2 linked regions of the Homo sapiens genome follow. The protein of the gene in region 1 purifies or fractionates together with the protein of each later gene. This does not show direct contact. Each region holds a gene or a part of one and is shown in the gene's direction. Other genes may lie near its edges.

Region 1 (3,894 bases):
AGAGTGAAACTCCATCTCAAAAAAAAAAAAAAGCTAAAAAATTAGCTGGGCAATTTTTCTGAAATCCGAAATGCTGCAAAGTCTGAACTGATCCAAAAATTGAGTGTCAATATGACACTCAAAGGAAATACTTATTCACTGGAGTTTTTCTCATTTGGGGTAAGGGATGTTCAATTGGTAAGTATAATGCAACTATTCCACAATCCAAAACTTCTGTCTCAAGCATTTTGGATGAGGGATGCTCAATCTGTATGGTACTTTTTGTGGAAAGGTCCTGTAAAACTAAGCCTTTTATTGCTTAAATCTTTATTGAGTGCTAGGTGAATTCCAGACATGGAAGAAGGGGGTTGCTGACCGCAGGAAATATTTGTAAACGTAATGTGCAAAGCAATTAACTGATTATGACTTGAGAGTCTGAGAATAACTTCTGAATTAAGGTAGCATTTTAGCTGAGTCTTTTTTTGTTGTTTTTTGAGACAGAGTCACTCTGTTGCCCAGGCTGGAGTGTAGTGGCACGATCTTGGCTCACTGCAACCGCCGTCTCCCATGTTCAAGCGATTCTCCTGCCTCAGCCTCCCCAGTGGCTGGGATTACAGGCATGTGTCACTACGCTCGGCTAATTTTTTTTTTTTTTTTTTTTTTTTTTTTTTTTTTGAGATGACGTTTCGCTCTTGTTGCCCAGGCTGGAGTGCAGTAGCATGATCTCGGCTCACTGCAACTTCCACCTCCCAGACTCAAGCGATTCTCCTGCCTTAGCCTCCCAGAACGCTGGGATTACAGGCGCATGCCACCATTCTCAGCTAATTTTTGTATTTTTAGTGGAGATAGGGTTTCATCATACTGGTCAGGCTGGTCTCAAACACCTGACCTCAGGTGATCCGCCTGCCTCAGACTCCCAAAGTGCTGGGATTACAGGCATGAGCCACCACACCCGGCCTACTAATTTTTGTATTTTTTTTGTCAAGACAGGGTTTCACTGTATTGGCCAAGCTGGTCTCAAACTCCTGACCTCAGGTGATCTGCCCGCCTCGGCCTCCCAAAGTGCTGGGATTGCATGAGCCACTGCGCCTGGCTAGCTGAGTCTTGATCAAGTTTGAGCAATAGTCCCATTTCGAGCACAGGGAAACCATGAGAGCAAAGTCCAAAAAACCCACAATTTAAGGAGAGAATAATGTAATGTAACTAAATTATAGTGGAATCCAGATGGAACCAGGAAAATAAATTGAGGCCACATCTTGGAAAGTATTGACTGCCATGTTCAAGAGTTTGAATTTTGGTTTGTAGCAGTAGGAACACTGTAGAGTTTGGAGGATGGGCTTAGACCGGAAAAAATCTGGCAGCACAACCTCAAGTAATGGAGGGAAGGATTAAAATTATCCACTGTTAAAAAGAAATTTGAGTTTTTCTTTTTAAAAAAATTTTGTGCTTTATATGGCCTTCTACAGAAGAAAATCATGTCTAACTTTCTTATTTTTCTCCCATGGATACCGTGTTTAGATTCTTGGACTTCTTAGTCCTACCACCCTCAAAATTGTATCTTTCCATTTGTTAACATTGCCATACAGGAGGCAGAGGTTTATCAAAGACCTTCTGTTCTCTTAAGCGTTGTCCTCATACTTGTCCTTTCTTGTTTCAAGTATTTGCAGTTCTTATCCTTGTATTGGCTCTGGCTTGAGGAATAAGACATCTTAAAATACAGGGGGCTAGCGGTGGCTCACGCCTGTATTCCCAGCACTTTGGGAGGCCGAGGCGGGCGGATCAGCTGAGGTCAGGAGTTTGAGACCAGCCTGGCCAACATTGTGAAACTCTGTCTCTACTAAAAATACAAAAAATTAGGTGGGTGTGGTGGCGGGCTCCTGAAATCCAAACTACTCTGGAGGCTGAGGCAGGAGAATTGCTTGAACCTGGGAGGTAGAGGTTGCAGTGAACTGAGATTGTGCTATTGCACTACAGCCTGGGCGACAGGGTAAGACTCTCTTAAAAAATAAAGTGAGGTGAAAACTTAATAAATTCAGGAATCTAAAATACAAACTTCATAGCACTGTTTTGTTTTGTTTTTTGAGACAGTGTCTTACTCTGTTGCCCAGGCTGGAGTCCAATGGGGTGATCTCGGCTCACTGCAATCTCCACCTCCTGGGTTGAAGCAATTCTCCTGCCTCAGCCTCCCAAGTAGCTGGGATTACAGGTGCGCACCACCATGCCCAGCTAATTTTTGTATTTTTAGTAGAGATGGTTTCGCCATGTTGGTCAGGCTGGTCTCGAACCTCAGGTGATCCACCTGCCTAGGCCTCCCAAAGTGCTGGGATTACAGGCGTGAGCCACCATGTACAGGCTTTTTTTCTTTTTTTTAATACTGGGTCTCGTTATGTTGCCCAGGCTGGCCTCAAGTGATCCTCCCACCTTGGCCTTCCAAAGTGCTGGATTACAGGCATGAGCCACAGTGCCTGGCCCATAGCACTCTTGTTTTTTTGTTTTGTTTTTCTATTTTTTTTTTGAGGCAGAGTCTTGATTGTGTTTCCCAGGCTGGAGTGCAGTGGCACAATCTCGGCTCAGTGCAACCTCCACCTCCCCGGTTCAAGAGATTCTCCTGCCTCAGCTTCCTGAGTAGCTGGGACTACAGGCACGTGCCACCACGCCTGGCTAAATTTTTTTATTTTTAGTAGAGACGGTGTTTCACCATGTTAGCCAAGATAGTCTCGATTTCATGACCTTGTGATCTGCCTGCCTCAGCCTCCCAAAGTGCTGGGATTACAGGCATAAGCCACCATACCCAGCTGGCCCATAACACTCTTAAAGCATCTCCTACATTGTTCTAGTATTTAGGCTGAAAGTTAGGGACTTTGACTATGTGTGGAACCACTTGAATTCATGTCAGTTCCTGGACTGTACTGTCACTTGTTATGACATTATTGTTACCTTTAGTTTTTATTTTTACAACCTTATCAGGTAGGTATTTAATGTTTACATTGAAGAAGTAAAGATCCTGAATAACTTCTCAAGGTTATAGTCACACAGCTAGTAAGAAGCAAAGTGGCATTGTTAATACCTCCCACCATTAAAAAAAAAAAGGTGGTTATAGCAAAGTATACACTAGAATAATTTGAGTTGTTTGAGATGGATACAGGTATCTCTTTTTTTAAATTAGTAGGTACAAACAAAGAACTTGAAAACCACATCCTTTTAGATTCTTTGTTGTTTCTAGGAGTGTATTTCAAGGTGGTTAGTAATTTGTGTTTCCTGGGCTCCCTTTAATAGTGTTAGCAAATTTGCTTTGTGATTACCTTGACTTATAATCTCCCCACACACTGAGTTGCCTCTTAGGATCAGAAAATTATTTTCTAAGCCCTGACCATCACTTCTAGGCATTAAATCTCAGTTCTTTCCTTGGTCGATGTCCACACTGTAAACATAATGGTTTCTGCTGCCCCCTTTCCCAAAGTTTATTTTGATTTGTTTTTTAGATAAATCACCCAGGCTCCCTTGTGGTTTTTTTTTGAGACGAGATTTTGCTGTGTTGTTCAGGCTAGTCTCCTGGGCTCAAGGGATCCTCCCGCCTCCCCCTGCAGAGTAGCTGGGATTACACCCAGCTTTGGAGCCACCACTTCCAGCTCCAAAGATGCTTTTTTAAAGTCCCATATGGGACAAGAGCTTCCTTGTTAGAAGGTCTTGGGCAGTATGAGACTCACCCCTTAATACCCTAGGTTGTGAAATTGCGAAATTTAAAGGAGATTAAAAAATAATCCCTGTTAGGTAAACAGAGGTTTCTTTTACTGTAAATTGTACTAGTTAACCATCCAGCTAACTGCAGATCTTGTGTTCTTTGCCACAGGAAAACAAGTAAAGGGAACTCTGTCTGGTTTATGCCAAAGTAGCTATTCTTTTATGCATTGTTGA
Region 2 (3,729 bases), on another chromosome or scaffold:
ATAATTTGTATCTATTCTTTTTCTAATCTACTCATTCCAGTTCAGGGTCACAGGTGGTTGGAGCCTGTCCTGGCAGCTTAGGGCATGAGGCAGAAGCCAGCCCTGGACAGGATACCATTCCACCAGAGGAGCACTCACACACACCCCCACACTCACACTGGGACAATGCAGACGTACCATTGAAGTGAACATGCACATCTTTATTGTGTGAAAGGAAACCAGAGTACCAGGAGAGAGCCCACGCAGACACAGGGAGAACACACAGACTCCACACAGGCAGGGGCCCCCGCTGGGAGTTGTTTTTTTTTTTTTAATCTTGTCAGCATTATAATGAAATGAAATTGAGGATCAGTTGTACATAGAATGAGACAATCTGTGGTCTTTTGTGACTGGCTTCTCCTACTTACTATAATGAGTTCAAGTTTCATCCATATCATAGCGTGTATCAGCACTCCATTCCTTTTTATGGCTGGATAATACTCCATTGTGAATATAGACATTTTGTTTATCCATTCATCAGATGATGGATGTTCTCGGCCTTATGAATAATGCTGCTATGAACATTTGCAGATAAGTTTTTGCATGAACATATGTTTTTAATTCTCTTGGGTCTATACCTAGGTGTGAAATTGCTGAGTCATATGGTAATTCTGTGTTTAACTTTTTGAGGAATTGCTAAACTGTTTTGCAAAGTAACTGTACCCTTTTACATTCCCATCAGCAGTGTATGAGGGTTCTAATTTCTCCACATCCTCACTAACATATGTCTGTCATTTTGGTTACAGCTGTCCTAGTGAATGTGAGGTGGTATCTTATTGTGATTTTTTGGGTTTGTTTTGTTCTGTTTTTTTGAGACGGAGGCTTGCTCTGTCACCCAGGCTGGAGTGCAGTGACATGATCTCGGCTCACTGCAACCCCCGCCTCCCAGGTTCAAGCAATTCTCATGCCTCAGCCTCTTGAGCAGCTGGAATTACAGGCACACGCCACAACACCCGGCTAATTTTTGTATTTGTAGTAGAGACAGGGTTTCACCATTTTGCCCAGGTTGGTCTCAAACTCCTGGCCTCAAGTGATCCGCCCACCTCAGCCTCCCAAAGTGCTGGGATTACAGGTGTAAGCCACCACACCCGGCCCTTATTGTGATTTTTATTTGCATTTTGCTAATCAAAGATGATGGTGAGCATCTTCTGGGGGCCTTTGGAGAAATGACCAGGAGGGGTTTGCACTCTGTAACACCGAGTGAGTGGAAGCGGCCCACAATAAGAAAGGCTGAAGGGGCGGGAAGAAATCTGAGCTCTGTGATCCTCCAGAGCAAGCCTCTGGGACAGGGCCCCTCAGGAGGAAGAACTGCAGGAAATGAAATCACAGTTGAGCTGGATAGGGACACAGGAAAGGAAGGATGAGATGTAGACCAATGTGGGGAAGAGGAACAAAGACAGGAACTCCTGAAAGCCATCTCCCACGTTTTTTAACACCACACAGAAACAAGGGAGAGTTCTGAGCTTAGACTTTCCTGAGCCTTTCTTATCAGGAAAACTCATCTCACCTAAAAATAACAGAAAAGTATTTGAAGTGAAATTGCATACAGTTGTTATATAAGAAACAAGAATATGCAAAATAACCTCCCTGCGGACAATGAGAGCACATTAGAAAGACATGCCCACATAACCGAGCCAAGCTGTAACCTGCTATTTCAAATCAAGCCAGGTGACATTCTAACAATACAAAACAAGAGAGAATAGTGTAAATCAACTTTTTAAAAATCAGAAATAAGGTGACAGAACTCAGGAAAGAATTAGAATTAAAAATCATTTCAGAAGTAAAGAAAGACTAAGACGAAATGCAAGTGTCGATGAACACAGCAGATCCTGCCTGAAAAGGATAAACAGTGTGAAAAAGGAAACATTTCAAGAGCAAAAAAATGAAGAGGTAAAAAGGTTTTGACCAAAAGTAAAGACAGGCAGAAAGGTCAGACATACGAATACCAGGAGTCCCTGGAAAGGAAAACAGAATACCAAAAAGTAATCCAGAAAACTTTCTTAAAATTAAAAAACAAAGATTTGAAACTTGAGATTGAGAGATCATACCCCACACTTAACAATATCAGCCGGGCGCAGTGGCTCAGCCTGTAATCCCAGCACTTTGGGATGCTGAGGTGGGCGGATCACCTGAAGTCAGGAGTTTAAGACCAGCCTGACCAACATGGCGAAACCCCGTCTCTACTAAAAATACAAAAATTAGCCAGACGTGGTGGCGCACACCTGTAATCTCAGCTACTCGGAAGGCTGAGGCAAGAGAATTGCTTGAACCCGGGAGTCAGAGGTTGCAGAGAGCCAAGATCACGCCATTATAATCCAGCCTGGGCGACAAAGCAAGACTTGTCTCAAAAAAAAAAAAAAAAAAAAAAATCAAGGCCAGGCGTGATGGCTCAGCCTGTAATCCTAGCACTTTGGGAGATCGAGGTGAACTCCTGTTTGAGGCCAGGAGTTCAAGACCAACCTGGCCAACATAGTGAGACCCCGTCTCTAAAAAAAAAAAAAAAAAAAAAAATTCAACTCAGCATCACCAACAAAAAGATATAATTCTAGTAAAATTATTAGACTTTAAAGAAAATTTTGGGGGGTTCTAGAGAAAAGGAACCTTGTGACTTAAAGGGGAAAGACAATTAGATTATTGTCAGACTCTTCAATAGTAAGGATTGGTGCAGAAGAAAAAAGAATAACATGTTTAAAATACTCCAGGAAAGAAAGTGTGAGCCAAGGATTTATAACCAGGAAAATTGACTTTGAAGTTCACACAAAGACTTATACACAAAAGGTTATAGCAGCTTTAATAGCCAAAAACTGGAAATAGTCCACATGTCCATCAACAGGTAAATGATAAGTTGTGATATATCCATACTTTGGAAATACTGCGAGCAATAAAAAGAAATGACTGCAATAAAAAGAAATGACTTAACAAAATAAGATGAAGAATAAATTTCAAAATAATTATGCTGAGTGAAAAAAAGAAGAAAAAGGACACACTGTGATTCCACTGCTGTAATATCTAGGAAATGCAGCTGAGCAGGCCCATGGTCACCACGATTGGGGGCTGCAGGATGGGGAGATGGATTACCAGGGGATCCGAGGAAACTTTTGGGAATGATGGGCATGTTCCTTATCTTGATTGAGGTGATGTGATGATCCTACAGGATATATTTTTGTCAAAATTCACCAAATCATGCACTTGATATGCAGTTTATGTCAATTATACTATATCAAAGCTGTTTTTAAAATTAGCTTTTGAGTGTAAAGGATATGAACTATTATCAATATGCAAGAATTCAGGGACTATTGTTTCTAGGAGCCCTTCCTGAGAAATCTACTAGAGGATACAAGTCACACAACTAAAATGACTACAAAGACTTCAGCATAAATATATAGTTACTTGTAGAGAACTAAGACGAAATGAGGGTTAAAAGGCTGGGCCCAGGGCAGGCACAGTGGCTCACACCTGTAATCCCAGCACTTTGGGAGGCTGAGGCAGGCGGATCACCTGAGCTCAGGAGTTCAAGACCAGCCTGGCCAACATGGCAAAGCCCCATGATGTGGTTTGGCTGTGTCCCCACCCAAATCTCATTTTGAATGCCCATGTGTTGTAGGGGGTAACCAGTGGGAGTTGAGTCATGGGAGGAGGTCTTTTCCATGCTGTTCTCTTGATAGTGAATAAGTCTCACAAGATCTGATG

What was found. The genes of interacting proteins can lie anywhere in the genome.
Region 2: the proteins of AKIRIN1 (region 1) and SEC13 purify together in Homo sapiens (affinity purification with mass spectrometry, with the first as the bait; one large-scale study listed by BioGRID). This does not show direct contact.

The regions. Positions count from the first base shown.
Region 1 is NC_000001.11:38,994,053-38,997,946, forward strand, and holds part of AKIRIN1 (akirin-1), read left to right. Parts: intron 1-3,894. UniProt on the Homo sapiens protein: Molecular adapter that acts as a bridge between proteins, and which is involved skeletal muscle development. Functions as a signal transducer for MSTN during skeletal muscle regeneration and myogenesis.
Region 2 is NC_000003.12:10,307,613-10,311,341, reverse strand, and holds part of SEC13 (protein SEC13 homolog), read left to right. Parts: intron 1-3,729. UniProt on the Homo sapiens protein: Functions as a component of the nuclear pore complex (NPC) and the COPII coat. At the endoplasmic reticulum, SEC13 is involved in the biogenesis of COPII-coated vesicles.